Regions from separate parts of the Homo sapiens genome. Here regions 2 and 3 are each linked to region 1. Evidence: fine-mapped expression QTL. A gene starts in region 1. Each other region holds a variant in brackets. All regions are shown on one strand. Distances are from middle to middle.

Region 1 (5,000 bases):
TGGCAGTTGGGTGGGCAGGGAGTAATTAACGTTTACTGAAATTATGCTACTTGGTGATCTCCAGGAATCATTTAGCAGGTGGTTTAAAATCCTCACATTTAATGCTGGTTGAGCAAGAGTGAACTGACTGTAATGACCCTTGGGAAGGTGAATTGGTTACAGACGTATAGTAACGACACTGTAAAGATAGTCCAGGCAGGAGATGACAGGTCTGGAGTAGAGTGGTAGCCGTGGCAAAGTGACATTTAATTTCCACGAAGACAGTTTTAAGGGAGACTGGGACATCGGAAGAAAAAAGGGGTGATGCAGAGCTCAAATCTGTACACGCTTGTTTGAGGTGATAGCAGACATCCAGATGAAGAAAACCAGCAGACAGGTGAAAATCTTAATCTAGGATGATTAGTCATGCTATGGATTCAGAGAAAGAAATGTGTTTTTTCATTACTTCATTAGGAATTGCACAATAAATCTCCTCCCCCATAATCACATGACTACTGACTTTTCAGCATGCAGGAGAAAAAGCAAATATTTCCACTGTTGAAAGGTTTTATTGGAGAAACTTGATGAATACAATGACTTCATGGCTTAGTGAAGACAACCACGGTGGTTAAAATACAGTGAACCCTCATTTAGCTGTATCCATTCAAAGTATTTGAGCATCTCCTATGTATAATGTCAATTTATTTGATGCTGGTTAAATGTGTAACAAGTTACTTAAAACCAACTGTAATACCAAAAAGTCATTGAACACACTTCTAAAGTATACTGCCTGAATAAAAGGTATCTATAAAAATTCCTTCCCTGTAGTATCTATATATTTAAGCTTACAAACTTAGCTGCTTTTCTACACACAACTGCAATTCTATATTAAAGCTTTGCAACTGCCTTAATCTCTACACTCTTTTTTTTTTTTTTCCCGAGACGGAAAAAAAAGAGTCTCGCTCTGTTGCCAGGCTGGAGTGCAGTGGCGCGATCTCGGCTCATCGCAACCTCCGCCTCCCGGATTCAAGCGATTCTCCTGCCTCAGCCTCCCGAGTAGCTGGGACTACAGGCATGCGCCAACACGCCCGGCTAATTTTTGATATTTTAGTAGGGACGGGGTTTCGCCATGTTGGACAGGCTGGTCAAACTCCTGACCTCAGGTGATGCGCCCGCCTCGGCCTCCCAGAGTGCTGGGATCACAGGCATGAGGCACCGCGCCCGGCCTATGCTCAAATGTTTCTTGGGCTGTTAAAGTACTGCTCCTCGCAGAAGGGCTATGTTCCCGGGATCTATTCTCTTCCGTACATTCATTCCTATCTTCATTAGAAAACATCTGACCTAAATAAATCCCCCATCGATGCTAACATCTCCTTCCGCGCAATTTTTTACTTTCTAAGTCAAATCAAAACAATTATTTGAGCGACTGCTCCTGTCTGCCATTAAGTCTTTCTGGCACCACCCTCCAGACATATATACAATATTGCTTCTTTCCCTCAAATCAGAAAGGACTGCATAGTTCCGGATCAAGGCATAAATGATGAATCATGACTGTCCATCCCCACCAACATACTCTGCAACATTATAATCTATTTACCTCTGCTTTGAAAATGTATTCTTTAAAGCACTGCTTCCAACTAGCCACTTAGCCAGTAACATTTTTGAGAAAAACAAAACACAACCCAAAACAATGTATATATTCCTGGGGGGAAGAGTTTCTAACTCAAAATACGCAGATAATTGTTTATTATTCTAAGGAACACCCTTCTGAAGAGGCCTGCAGTCGGTGGGGCTGTTTCTAATTTAAAACTACTTAGGTGAACCAGGAAGAATGTACATTTAAGGAGATACTTTTAGACGCAGATGCCTCGCGCAAGCCTAAAGCTCGTGTGGTAAGCGACACGACTAGGGGTTAAAAGCGGCTGGTTGGTAGGCCCGGGGCCGTGGCTCACGCCTTGTAAACCCAGCACTTTGGGAGGCTGAGGCGGGCAGATCACCTAAGGTTAGGAGTTCGAGACCAGCCTGGCAAATATGGTGAAACGCCGTCTCTACTAAAAACACAAAAATTAGCCGGCGTAGTGGCGCGCGCGCGCTCTCAGCTACTCGAGAAGCTAAGGCAGGAGAATCACTTAAACCCAGGAGGCGGAGGTTGCAGTGAGCCAAGATTGCGCCACTGCACTCCAATCTGGGCACAGAGTGAGACTCCGTCTCAAATAAATAAATAAAAGCAGCTAGTTACTTCTCATTCTTTTAACGAAACAAACAAAACTGAACTTTGCTGGGTGACAGGAGTGAAGCAAAGGAAAAAACGATAGTACAAGTTCGATTCGAATTCTTCCAGTCTTATGATTCGATCATCGCAGGAATACTGATAAAAATCTGCGTTTTTTCCAGGTTGACAACTTTTGCGAGGCCAGACTAAACGAATTCAGCGCTCCAAGGAGACTCCTCTTTCCTCTGCTTTCTCACATTTACCTCTCGCCTTTTACCTCCCAAAGTCGAACCCTCCAGGATCGTACAGGCGGTATTCCCTCTACCAAGCATTCTACTCCTCTGCAGATGCTGCAATCTTTACACTGGAACTAACACTTAGCTGTGGTGTTCCCCGCTTTCTTTACTCGGAGTAGCCCAGGCTCTTCCTCTCCAATCCACAATTTCCCTCCAATCCCCAGTTTCCCTCTTGGGCGCCTGGACGCGTGCCCAGCCGCAGCCTGGGAGACACCGCGCGGCTGCACGCACCATGCAGATGTGGTCCCTTTCCCCTTCTTCTTCTCCTCCCCAAAGAGGTTTTGTGCTGTGACTGGCTTGCCCCGGTTACTTACTCCAAGGTGTAGGGGTGAAGAACGGAAGAGGACGAAATAACTAGCTGGAGGCAGCAGTGTCAGCCGATGCCGGTGCCACGGCTCGAAACACCGGCGCCTCTCGCGGTGCTAAAAGGATGGGCGCGCACCCTCCTTCCGGCATCCGTAGAACCCCCGCCTTTGACCTAGCTTCAGGAGATTACTTTCCGGGTCAGCGTGCGTTTAGGGCGAAGACGGAGTTGTAAACTTCTTAAAATTCCTCTCTCGACACTTCGGTAATTCCTCTTTCGAGACTAAAGCTCTTTTTGTATGCGTGTGTGTCAAGCGTATGCCCCGGGATTCTCCTCCGCTTCCTTTTCTCGGTCTTCCTTCTTGCTTTAGGGACCGGAAGAGTCCTTGAACCAAAATAGCTCGGCGGGCACTTCCGGGGCCGGCGCCCAGAGTTCCGGGAGGGTGCAGGCAGGAGAGGGAAAGGCAGCAGCGGCGGCAGCTGGAGGATGAAGAAGGAGCATGTGCTTCACTGCCAGTTCTCCGCGTGGTACCCGTTCTTCCGAGGCGTTACCATCAAGAGGTGAGATGGGAGGGGGTTCGCCCGGTCGACCGGCAAAAGGGAACTGCGACTTCTGAGCGAATCTTACTGCTATCCAAAAAAATGCAGGCCTTCTAGCGACTGCATGGGAGGGAGTGTGTCGAGAGGGAAGTACATCAGCAATTGTCTGCGTCCTGTTGCGAGCCAGCGAGTGTGCTGGCTAGGAGGGTCAGTTGTGGTTTTCAGTGAGGGTCGGAGGCGGGAGGAATAGTGGATTAACCTAGTTTAGGCTTGGGAGTTCACCACCACTACTTTTAGAATGGCCCCAGGCGCAAGGTGATCACTGCCTAAGTGCACTCGGAGAATTAATTGCTTTTCGCCATCACCCCAGAGGATGGAGATTGGGAAGGTGAAAGGATACGTAATTACAGTTAGATACGAGAACAAGTTCACAGATATGTCGTACAGCATGGAGGCTATAGTTAATGACGATATACGTATTCTTGAAAAACGGAGAGTGGATGTTAGTGTTCTCACCACAAAAATAACTATGTTAGGCAATGCATTTGTTAGCTAAATTTATTCCACAGTGTATATATACTTAAAAACATCAGGTAGGCGGCAAGTATTAATATATACAATTTCATCTCTCAGTTTTTTTAAAGGCGTTGATAGAAAATCTGGGCTTTGCACTTAACTGATTTTCTGAGCCAACATTTCAGTAATTGCTGATTCATTATATGATGGTTTCATTCAATAAAGATCGGATATGTACTTGAAAATGTGTAACTGGCTTAGAATGGTTAAAATGTATAAGAAAAGTTTCAAGTTCTTAAATAGTATTGGAATGTGTGGTAGAACCTTAGATTCATTGTACTTAACAATTTCGCTTGTTAGCTTTGTAAGAGTAAAATACTTAGGAAGGCTTATTTGTAATCAGCAAATAGACATATTAAGAAAGAAAATTGAGTGGTTTATGAATAGAATTTAAAATTTTAAAGAGACTTTTAAGTTGCAAAGTTTCGCTTGAAATTGTTTAAAATTTAGTAGATTTTCAAACGTAATAAGATTTGTTAGAAGAAATTAAAAGCCTGAAGAACTAGATTTTTTTTTTTTGAGACAGAGTTTTGTTCTGTCGCCCAAGCTGGAGTGCAGTGGCAGCGATCTTGGCTCACTGCAAGCTTCCCTTCCCGAGTTCACGCCATTCTCCTGCCTCAGCTTCCTGAGTAGCTGGGACTACAGGCGCCCGCCACCACCCCCGGCTAATTTTTTGTATTTTTAGTAGAGGCGGGGTTTTCACCGTGTTAGCCAGGATGGTCTCGATTGCCTGACCTCGTGATCCGCCCGCCTCGGCCTCCCAAAGTGCTGGGATTACAGGTGTGAGCCACCGCGCCCGGCCAGAACTAGATTTTTGAATGTGAAATTGTACCTTTGATAAATCAAATATTTATTTTTAAAACCGAAGTTTTTGCTCTGTCGCCCAAGCTGGAGTGCAGTGGCAGTGATCTTTTATTTATTTAAAAATAAATAAAAATACTTATTTTTAAAACCGAAGTAGCCCATGAATACTCTTTTTTGTGCAAAAAAACCATTTGTAATGTGCCAAAAAAAACTTCTTCCATAAATAAATGAGACATGTTATAAGTCATTGATGTTCTGTTAACTTCGGGAAAGCAGGCTGTAATCTTTTC
Region 2 (5,000 bases), 48 kb after region 1:
TTTTCTGGCTTTTGAATTTCAGCCATCATTTTAAAAAATACTTCCCCATGGTTTTTGTCCAGTTCTTTTGTAACTTCTTGTTCTCCATTTCAATATTGGATGTTTGGCTTTTGTTCCTTTGCGTGTTTGGTATGCGATATGGATCCCCCTTAGTCTTTTTGTCTAGCATCAATATATTTATTTTATACTGTCCTTCAGATTGATGATGATTTCCAGAGTTCTTGGGGCTTTAATGCCTGTTGCGTTTACAGACTCTCATCCGGGTTGGTTGTTTCTTTTTTGTTTTGTAAATCAGTTTATTTATTTACTTTGAGTTCATCTTCAGTGAGCTTGTTCTTTTTGTTTGTTCTTTTGTTTGTGAGAATCCCAAAGATCCAAAATTTTGGGTTTTTCATTTGCTTCTACCATGTTCCTCAAAACTCATTCAGAGAAGAACAGTCATTGTGTCCTGCCCTGTCATTAGAACTGTCTCCTCACACTCCCTTTCCTGAGACTGTCGCCTTCTGGAGTTTGTGTCTGAGTTCTGATTCCCTTCCTGTGGCCAGGCTGCTAGGAGACCCTCCCACGGGTTCCCACAGCACTAGAGTTGATAGGCTTAGTTCTGTTCTTCGGGTTCTTGTTTCTGGCCCCGGGGGATTTCCCGGTCTTTCTCATAATCTCAATTACACTTTTAAACGGCTTGTCGTAGCATGTGTTTCATCCTGTTTGGAACAGCAAGCCTTGAGAGTTACATAGCTGGCTGTATTTCAGGAGCCCTCACATATCTCACACTCCAGCCAAAATAACCTATTCCCGCAACAGGCGGTCGTGGCGTGGCCTCTGTACGTGAGAGCCGTCGTTCTTGTTAAGTGGTCCGCTTTTCCTGCCAACACCACCCTCCTCCCAGGGCATCTCTGTTATCCCTCAGGTGCCCAGGTCCTTTGGGAAGCATTTCCAGCCTTCCCTCGCACATGTAGGCAGGCTCTCCTGTGTGCCTCTCCGCTCTCACAGTTCCCTGTTCTTGCCTCTCTTGAAGCAAAATACCCTGCACATTGCCATTGTTGGATGGCTTTTGGTTCTGTTTTGGGGAAGTGGAGATGTGTGTTCTGCTCAAGCCTGAGCTCTTGGAAGGAGTCGATTTTGTGTTACGATCTTCATGCCCAGTGCCTAACACAGTGTCTGGTCCCTAGAGCTTGATCGGGGCAGGGAGACAGTCAGCTGGTACAAGGACAGTTAGTCCGACTGCTCTTTGCTTATTGGATTGCCTCAAAGCAGAATTAACTTCTCAGGCTGTTTGTGCTTGAGATGTCACATGAAAACATGTTATGGCCGGGCGTGGTGGCTCACACCTGTAATCTCAGCACTTTAGGAGGCTGAGGCAGGCAGGTCACCTGAGATCAGGAGCTCAAGACCAGCCTGGCCAACATGGTGAAACCCCGTCTCTACTAAAAATACAAAAGTTAGTCAGGCACAGTGGCAGGCGCCTGTAATCCCAGCTACTTGGGAGGCTGAGGCAGGAGAACCACTTGAGCCCAGGAGGAGGAGGTTGCAATGAGCTGAGATCGCGCGACTGTACTCCAGCCTGGGCAACAGGGCGAGACTCTGTCTCAAAAAAAAAAAGTTATAAAATCCTGATCCTGATCCTCCTAGTTTATAGAAGTTACAGCTGGGTTTTTTTTAATTTACTTAAACTCTTTTTTTTTGTACTAGAGGATAGCTTCTGAGCTACAGAGTACACTACCAATTAACAGTGGTGGTTTGTTTTCATTTAAAAATGTGTTTTGGGCTGGGTACAGTGGCTCACGCCTGTAATCTCAGCACTTTGGGAGGCCTAGGCGGGCAGATCACCTGAGTTTAAGAATTGGAGACCAGCCTGACCAACATGGTGACACCCCATCTCTACCAAAAATAGAAAATTAGCCAGGCGTGGTGGTGCATACCTGTAGTCCCAGCTACTTAGGAGGTGGAGGCAGGAGAATTGCATGAACCCAGGAAGGGGAAGTTGCAGTGAGCCGAGATCTCACCATTGCACTCCTGCCTGGGCAACAAGAGTGAAAAAAAAAAAAGGAAAAAATGTGGTTTGGTTTTTTGCATTGTGGCATATTCCTATATTAAAAGTGTGATTGTTTAAAAAAAAATGAGTTAGTTTTACTGACTATAAAAAGCCAAGTAGAGGCTGGGCACAGAGGGTCACGCCTGTAATCCCAACACTTTGGGAGGCTGAGGCAGGCAGATCACGAGGTCAGGAGATCGAGACCATCCTGACACAGTGAAACCCTGTCTCTACTAAAAATACAAAAAATTAGCTGGGCGTGATGGCGGACGCCTGTAGTCCCAGCTACTTGGGAGGCTGAGGCAGGAGAATCACTTGAACTCGGGAGGCGGAGGTTGTAGTGAGCAGAGATCGCACCACTGCACTCCAGCCTGAGTGACAGAGCGAGACTCCATCTCAAAAAAAAAAAAAAAGAAAGTCAAGTAGAAAAGATTTGGAGGTTAGAAAATGTCCATTTTGTATCATGACATATATTGAAGACATCTTAGCAGTATTCTCCAAAATAAAGTTGACATCATTACCAAGAAGTTGTTTGACGGCTGATACTGTTTCACATAGTTCCAGGAATGAAGAAGTGGGTGCCAAATGGAGGTGAGGAAACAACTCAAGCGGTGAGAAATTTGCAGGGCCTCTCCTGGGGCTTGTATAAAATGAGGAACTTACC[TA/T]AATGGGTTGTGCTGAAAACATCCTGCGAAAACATCCTGCGACAGGCCTGTGCCACTTAACTGGAGGTTCTGGTATTTGAAGCAAGTCCTAATTAGATGTTGCATCTTTCTTAACAGTTTGCTCTCGCTCAGCTGAGAAACAGTGCCAGATATTAGGCATGCTGGCTCAGCGGTCTTGTTGCTTGGAATTTCACAGACACACACCCGCTCAGGACATGGCGGCAACACATTTATAGAAAAAAACAAATTCATTATTAACCAGATGGCACAAATATATGAATGTTTCAGTGAGAAAAGTGAAAAGGAGCAAAGATAAACCTTTCGAGGAAACATCCATCCACTTCGTGTCAATAGGTGTTCGTGATCGGATGCCGTGGCCGTCATTCCTGGCGGCGCAGCCCCTGTGCCCCCGCTCTGTGCGTGTCAGCACTGGCTGTTTTCTGCTCAGAGGCCCCAGCCCTACCTCAGCACAGTGCCCCCAGCTCAAAGGTGACCTTTCCCTGAGGAGAGTCACCAAATTGCCCACCTGTGGTTTCAGAACAGGACAAGGTAGACATTTCTTTCAGAGGTTGGGGTGGTTTTTTTTTTTTCTTTTTTCTTTTTTTTTTTTTTTTACGTCCCCTTCATATGCTGTCAAGCTCTATTGTACAGACGGAACACTTACCACATTCACATAGAAAGAAAACAGCATCTTCAGGCTGGGCACGGTGGCTCATGGGGAGGCCAAGGTGGGAGGACATTTGAGGTTAGGAGTTCGAGACCAGCCTGGCCAACATGGTAAGACCCTGTCTCTAGTAAAAATGCAAAAATTAGCCAAGCATACTGGCGCATGCCTGTAATCCCAGCTACTCGGGAGGCTGAGGCAGGAGAATCGCTTGAACCTAGGAGGCGGAGGTTGCAGTGAGCCGAGATCGCACCATTGTACTCCATCCTGGGCAACAGAGTGAGACTCTCACAAAAAACAAAAAACAAACAAAAACCACAGAAAAAAACCCAGCATCTTCATCCTTGCATATGGTAAAAAAATCCACCCTTGGCAGCAGCCTTTCCCGAGTCAGAAGCGCTGCTCTCTGGAGTCGCAGGCACTGCCTGGCTCCGTCCGGCTCCCCCTGAACAGAGCACTGAAGGCTCCGGGAAGACGCTTTGGTCAGACCGCAGACCCTTCGCCTTTGGGTGACAGTTCCCTTTCCTGCTGGAATCTTTTTTTCTTTTTTTTTTGGAGACCCGGTCTTGCTTTGTCACCCAGGATAGATGGAGTGTGGTGTTTTGATCACGGCTCACAGTAGCCTTGACCTCCTGGGCTCAAGCAATCCTCCTACCTCAGCCCCCTAAGTAGCTAGGACTACAGGCGTCTGCCACCGCAATCAGCTAATTTTTATATTTTTTTGTAGAGATGGGGTTTCACCATGTTGCCCAGGCTGGTCTTGAACTCCTAAGCTCAAGTGGTCTGTCCGCCTCAGCCTCCCAAAGTGCTGGGATTACAGGTGTGAGCCACCATGCCCGGCCCTGCTGGAATCTTTGACTTAAAGTTCCACTGTGGCTTGAGGCTGGAGTTGGAACGTTATCTCTTAGGCAGAGCTTTACTGGGTCCCTTCTCTCTTCATTCACAGGGGGCCCTCCCTTTAGATCTCTGTCTATTCAGACAGGCGGCCCTTTCTCAGATGGGATATAGACAGATGATCTTTTGAAATAAGTGAGAAGATTTTTAAGATTAGAATAATATGAAGAATATCTTTCTGGCCGGGCGACGTGGCTTATGTCTGTAATCCCAGCACTTTGGGAGGCTGAGGTGAGGGGATTGCTTGAACCCAAGAGTTCAAGACCAGCCTGGGCAACATGGCGAGACCCTGTCTCGAAGAAAATACAAAAATTAGCTGCATGTGGTGGTGCATGCCTGTAGTCCCAGGTACTGAGGAGGCTGAGGCAGGAGGATCCTTTGAGCCCAGGAGGTCGAGGCTGCAGTGAGCCGTGATCACACCAGTGCACTGCAGCCTGGGCAACAGCATGAGACCCTGTCTCAGAATAAAAAAGTGTTTCTTTCTCAGAAGACAGAGTACAGAAGATGTTTGTTTTTGTTTTTTCTCTCTCTGTGCTACAGGGGAAGGTGTGGCTCATTGACTTTAATCCATTTGGTGAAGTCACAGATTCACTGCTGTTCACCTGGGAAGAACTGATATCTGAGAACAACTTAAACGGCGATTTTAGTGAAGTTGACGCTCAAGAGCAGGTACAACATTTTTAAGACAGATACAATGTAAACCTTTCCAGTCTACTGACTGACTGCTTGTTCTTCAGACGCATAG
Region 3 (5,000 bases), 71 kb after region 1:
GGTGGGGGAAGTCGCAGTGAATATTTATTAACTGTTAGATCCAATGGAACATGTGTCATGGACTCTTTTTCAACTAAGAAGTGGAAGCTGAAGCTGTCTTTCTTTTTTGATTTTAAAATTTCACCTTTATGTTAGATTGGGAAGTACATGTGCAGGTTTGTGACAAGGGTATATTGCGGGATGCTGAGGTTTAGGGTGTGACTGAAGCCCTCATCCAGGTCGTGAGCACAGTAACCAACAGGTCGTTTTTCACGCCTTCCCCTCTCCCTCCCTCTCCCCTCTGGGAGTCCCCAGTGTCTTGTTCCCCTCCTTCCGCCCATGTGTACCCTATGTTTGGCTGCCACTTAATAAGTGAGAATATGCGGTATTTGGTTTTCCGTTTCTGCGTTAATTTGTTGAGCATAATGCTGTTTTCTTTTTTTTCTTTTAGACAGAGTTTCGCTCTTGTTGCCCAGGCTGAGTGCAGTGGTGCCATCTCAGTTCACTGCAACCTCCACCTCCCGGGTTCAAGCGATTCTCCTGCCTTAGCCTCCCGAGTAGCTGGGATTACAGGCGTGTGCCACCACGCCTGGCTAATTTTTGTATTTTTAGTTGAGATGGGGTTTCATCATATTGGTCAGGCTGGTCTCGAACTCCTGACCTCAGGTGATCCACCTGCCTCGGCCTCCCAAAGTGCTGGGATTACAGGCGTGAGCCACCGCGCCTGGCCATGCTGTTTTCTTAAACTAATCAAAAATAGTCTAAATACTGTACTTCACAGAATTTGTAAGGCTGGAAGAATCGGCCTGTGGCTGCTTCCAGCCTGGGAAAGGGATGGGCCACAAGATGGCGCCGCGCGTGCGGCGGTGAAGGCCGAGGCCGCCAGTGCCAGGTGGATGCCCGCCCTCCCCCAGGCCCTCAGGCCACGAGCAGGGGCGGGGGCACGGCTCACGATGTCATTTACACCGAGACAAAAGCCTAAATTGCTCCCTGTGCTTTCAGTGACCTAGGCCTTCCTCTCGTATTCTCTTTCTCTCGTATTCTCAAGTGTTTCTAGAAATGTGCTCTGGAGACATCCCCAAGCCAGTAGCTCCTCCCTCATTCTGAGAAGGCGGTTTAGTGCAGCTGGTCTCTGAAGGCATTGGGTGTTTTCCCCTCAGCTCCCGAGGGACAGCGTGGGAGGGTGGTGCTCTGGGCCTTCTCTCTACCATGCTTTGTTGTTGTTGATTTGTTTAAGCGCCAAACACTGAGTTTCCTTAATGTACCTGTGGGAAGATCAGTGGCAGAACTAGCAGAGGCTGTGTCCGGGCGCGGTGGCTCGCGCCTGTAATCCCAGCTACTGGGGAGGCTGAGGCAGGAGAATCGCTTGAGCCTGGGAGGTGGAGGTTGCAGTGAGCCGAGATCACACCACTACACTCCAGCATGGGTGACAGAGCGAGACTCCATCTCAAAAAAAAAAAAAAAAAAAAAAAAAAAAAAAAAAAGAACTAGCAACAAGCAAAGGCTGTGTTGCTTATGATACTTATTCCTGACAAAGGAAGGATGAACCTGAACTCTTAAATCTAAGGTGTTACCGGAAAGGGGTCCCGATCTAGACCCCAAGAGACCCTCGCACAAGAAGGAATTCAGGGCGAGTCCATAGAGTAAAGTGAAAGGAAGTTTATTAAGAAAGTAGAGAAATAAAAGAATGGCTACTCCATAGATAGAGTAGCGCAGGGGGCTGCTGGTTGTCCATTTTTATGGTTATTTCTGGATGATACGCTAAACAAGCGGTGGATTATTCATGCCTCCCCTTTTTAGACCATACAGGGTAATTCCTGATGTGGCCTTGGCATTTGTAAACTGTCATAGCGCTGGTGGGAGTGTAGCAGTGAGGACCACCAGAGGACACTGTCCTCGCCATGTTGGTTTTGGCCACTGTTTTACTGCAACCTGTTTTATCAGCAAGGTCTTTATGACCTGTGTTTTGTGCGGATCTCCTATCTTATCCTGTGACTTAGAATGCCTTAACCATCTGGGAATGCAGCCCAGTAGGTCTCAGCCTTATTTTACCCAGCTCCTGTTTAAGATGGAGTTGCTCTGGTTCAAACGCCTCTGACAAAGGGACAGTCATTTCACCTCACACATGAAAGCAAACCTAAAATTTTCTCTATTGGAAGTTCAATCTTGGCTAAGGGCATGATTTAGAAATCAAAGGAGTCTGACCTTCACGTGGTTTTGAACACTTGTGGAAAGGTAGCTGTGGGAAGGGACGTAGCCTTTGTAATGCAAGAGGAGAGAATGGGGTGTGGGGCGTGTGGCCCAGAAATGACACAGAACTCTGACAGCACTGCCCGGTTGCCATGTAGCTAGGTAAATATTTGCAAAGCACCTACTGCTTCTCCGGACTCGGGGCAAGTGT[C/T]TACTGGGCATGAAACCATCTCCGTGGGGAAGTGAGCCTTACCCAGTTCTTATCTCCCTCTTGAGGCCAAGTTCACAGAATATGACACAACTTCCAGAGGAAAGGGGGGCCTGCCAGTTCTTATCTTCCTCTCTCAGCTGGCATTGGGACATTTTAGTGGCCAGGACCAATGTGTTATCTGTAGGAGCCCTGAAGAGAAGAGGTGGGCCCAGAGGCTTTTTTTTTTTTTTTTTTTTTTTTTTTTTGAGACAGAGTCTCGTTCTGTCGCCAGGCTGGAGTGCAGTGGTGCGATCTCGGCTCACTGCAAGCTCCGACTCCCTAGTTCAAGCGATTCTCCTGCCTCAGCCTCCCAAAGAGCTGGAATTACAGGCACACACCACCACACCTAGCTAATTTTTGTATTTTTAGTAGAGACAGCGTTTCACCATGTTGGCCAGGGTGGTCTCGCTCTCCTGACCTTGTGATCCGCCTGCCTCGGTCTCCCAAAGTGCTGGGATTACAGGTGTGAGCCACCGCGCCCGGCCAAGACTCGTCTTCTGGATATTAATTCCCGGAGCTGTCATTTCCTGAGAGCTCATGATCAAGAGGCATTGAGAGGTAGACCAGCTCGCTGTATAATTGTTAGCGGTGCCAATCTGTAAGGCACGCTACAGTGTCATGGAGCTGTAATGAGATGGAAAATCATATTTCTCAGAGGTCTTCTCAGGTAGACTATTCTTTTTTAAAAATTTCAAATACAATTTAAAAACAAGTGCATGTTTTAAAATGTCATTTACCAAATCAAAAGCCAAACTAATAGAAAAAAAAATTTGTAACAAATATGCCAGATCAAAGCTTAATATAGTTAACATACAAATAAAAGGACTTCAAAATTAAACAAAATAAGATTGGGTTAAGGATGTTATACAGGCAATTCATAAAGGAAAAAACACAAATATACAATAAATATATAAAAAGATGTTCAAGACAGAATAAAAAATGCATATTACACTGTTGTAGAATAATATTTTTATGTAACCAAGTGAGAAATATTTTTAAATGGCAATATAATTGGTGTAGAAATGTAATCCTATGTAATTCTGCAATATATATGTTCAAAAGGCTTTTTTTTTCTTTTTAGGAAAGGCCTCTATTATAGATTTGATTAAAAAATATATATATATAGCCTGGCGCGGTGGTCACGCCTGTAATCCCAGCACTTTGGGAGGCTGAGGCCAGCGGATCACGAGGTCAGGAGATCGAGACCATCCTGGCTATCACAGTGAAACCCCGTCTCTACTAAAAATACAAAAAAATTAGGCGGGCGTGGTGGCGGGTGCCTGTAGTCCCAGGTACTCGGGAGGCTGAGGCAGGAGAATGGCGTGAACCCGGGAGGCGGAGCTTGCAGTGAGCCGAGATCGCGCCACTGCACTCCAGCCTGGGCGACCGAGAGAGACTTAAATAAATAAATAAATATAGAACCATTTAGATTTTCTATTTTTGTGTATCTGTTTTGCCTTTTTTTTTTTTTAGACGGGGTCTCACTCTGTCGCCAGGCTGGAGTGCAGTGGCGCAATCTTGGCTCAAGGTAACCTCCGCCTCCCGGGTTCAAGCGATTCTCCTGCCTCAGCCTCCCGAGTAGCTGGGACTACAGGCACGTGCCACCACGCCCAGCTAATTTTTGTATTTTTAGTAGAGACGGGGTTTCACCCTGTTAGCCGGGATGGCCTCAATCTCTTGACCTTGTGATCTGCCTGCCTCGGCCTCCCAAAGTGCTGGGATTACAGGTATGAGCCACCACACCCAGCCTTTTTTTTTTTTTTTTGAGACGGAGTCTCGCTCTGTCTCCCAGGCTGGAGTGCGGTGGCGCAATCTCAGCTCACTGCAAGCTCCGCCTCCCAGGTTCACGGCATTCTCCCGCCTCAACCTCTGGAGTAGCTGGGACTACGGGCACCCACCACCAGGACCGGCTAATTTTTTTTTTTTTTTTTTTTTTTTTTGTATTTTCAGTAGAGACGGGGTTTTCACCATTCACAGGATGGTCTAAATCTCCTGACCTTGTGATCCGCCCACCTCGGCCTCCCAAAGTGCTAGGATTACAGGGGTAAGCCACCGCACCTGGCCTTTTTTTTTTTTTTTTTTTTTTAGATTGTGTCTCACTCACTCTGTTGCTCAGGCTGGAGTGGAGTGGCATGATGTCAGTTCACTTGCAACCTCTGCCTCCGAGGTTCAAGCAATTCCCCTGCCTGAGCCTCCCAAGTAGCTGCGATTACAGGCATGCACCACCATGCCTAGCTAATTTTGTATTTTTAGTAGAGATGGGATTTCACCATGTTGGCCAGGGTGGTCTCTAACTCCTGACCTCAGGTGATCTGCCAGCCTCGGCCTCCCAAAGTGCTGGGATTACAGGCGTGAGCCACCGTGCCTGGCCTGTTTTGCAAGTTTTTAAAATTAAATATATATTTTCAAAAACTCAAGTCCAAAAGACTGGTCTCTTGGGTCTCTCCTCCTTTTCCAGCAATTGTGGATATAGGAATTACCCTGACCTGATCACTGTACATTATGTATATTGCAACATCACTATCTACCCTGTAAATATGTACAGCTATTATCTGTCAATTAAAATGTGTGTGTGCGTGTG

Evidence for each region.
Region 2: its variant is fine-mapped to the expression of NUDT5 in whole blood (TOPMed, PIP above 0.99).
Region 3: its variant is fine-mapped to the expression of NUDT5 in whole blood (TOPMed, PIP above 0.99).

The regions. Positions count from the first base shown.
Region 1 is chr10:12,192,969-12,197,968 of GRCh38, forward strand. It overlaps NUDT5 (nudix hydrolase 5), which reads right to left and starts at 2,923. Exons shown (of 10, transcript NM_014142.4): 1 at 2,802-2,923. It overlaps CDC123 (cell division cycle 123), which reads left to right and starts at 3,220. Exons shown (of 13, transcript NM_006023.3): 1 at 3,220-3,351. The coding sequence starts at 3,278. RefSeq lists an enhancer at 2,967-3,236.
Region 2 is chr10:12,241,354-12,246,353 of GRCh38, forward strand. CDC123 (cell division cycle 123) reads left to right here. Exons shown (of 13, transcript NM_006023.3): 11 at 4,796-4,924. Among named protein-coding and RNA genes, the nearest start is that of CDC123, 48 kb to the left of the region's middle. The variant TA/T (reference allele first, on the strand shown) is at 2,697.
Region 3 is chr10:12,263,515-12,268,514 of GRCh38, forward strand. No RefSeq gene overlaps it. Among named protein-coding and RNA genes, the nearest start is that of CDC123, 70 kb to the left of the region's middle. RefSeq lists silencers at 176-225, 796-855 and enhancers at 663-1,201, 1,076-1,175. The variant C/T (reference allele first, on the strand shown) is at 2,381.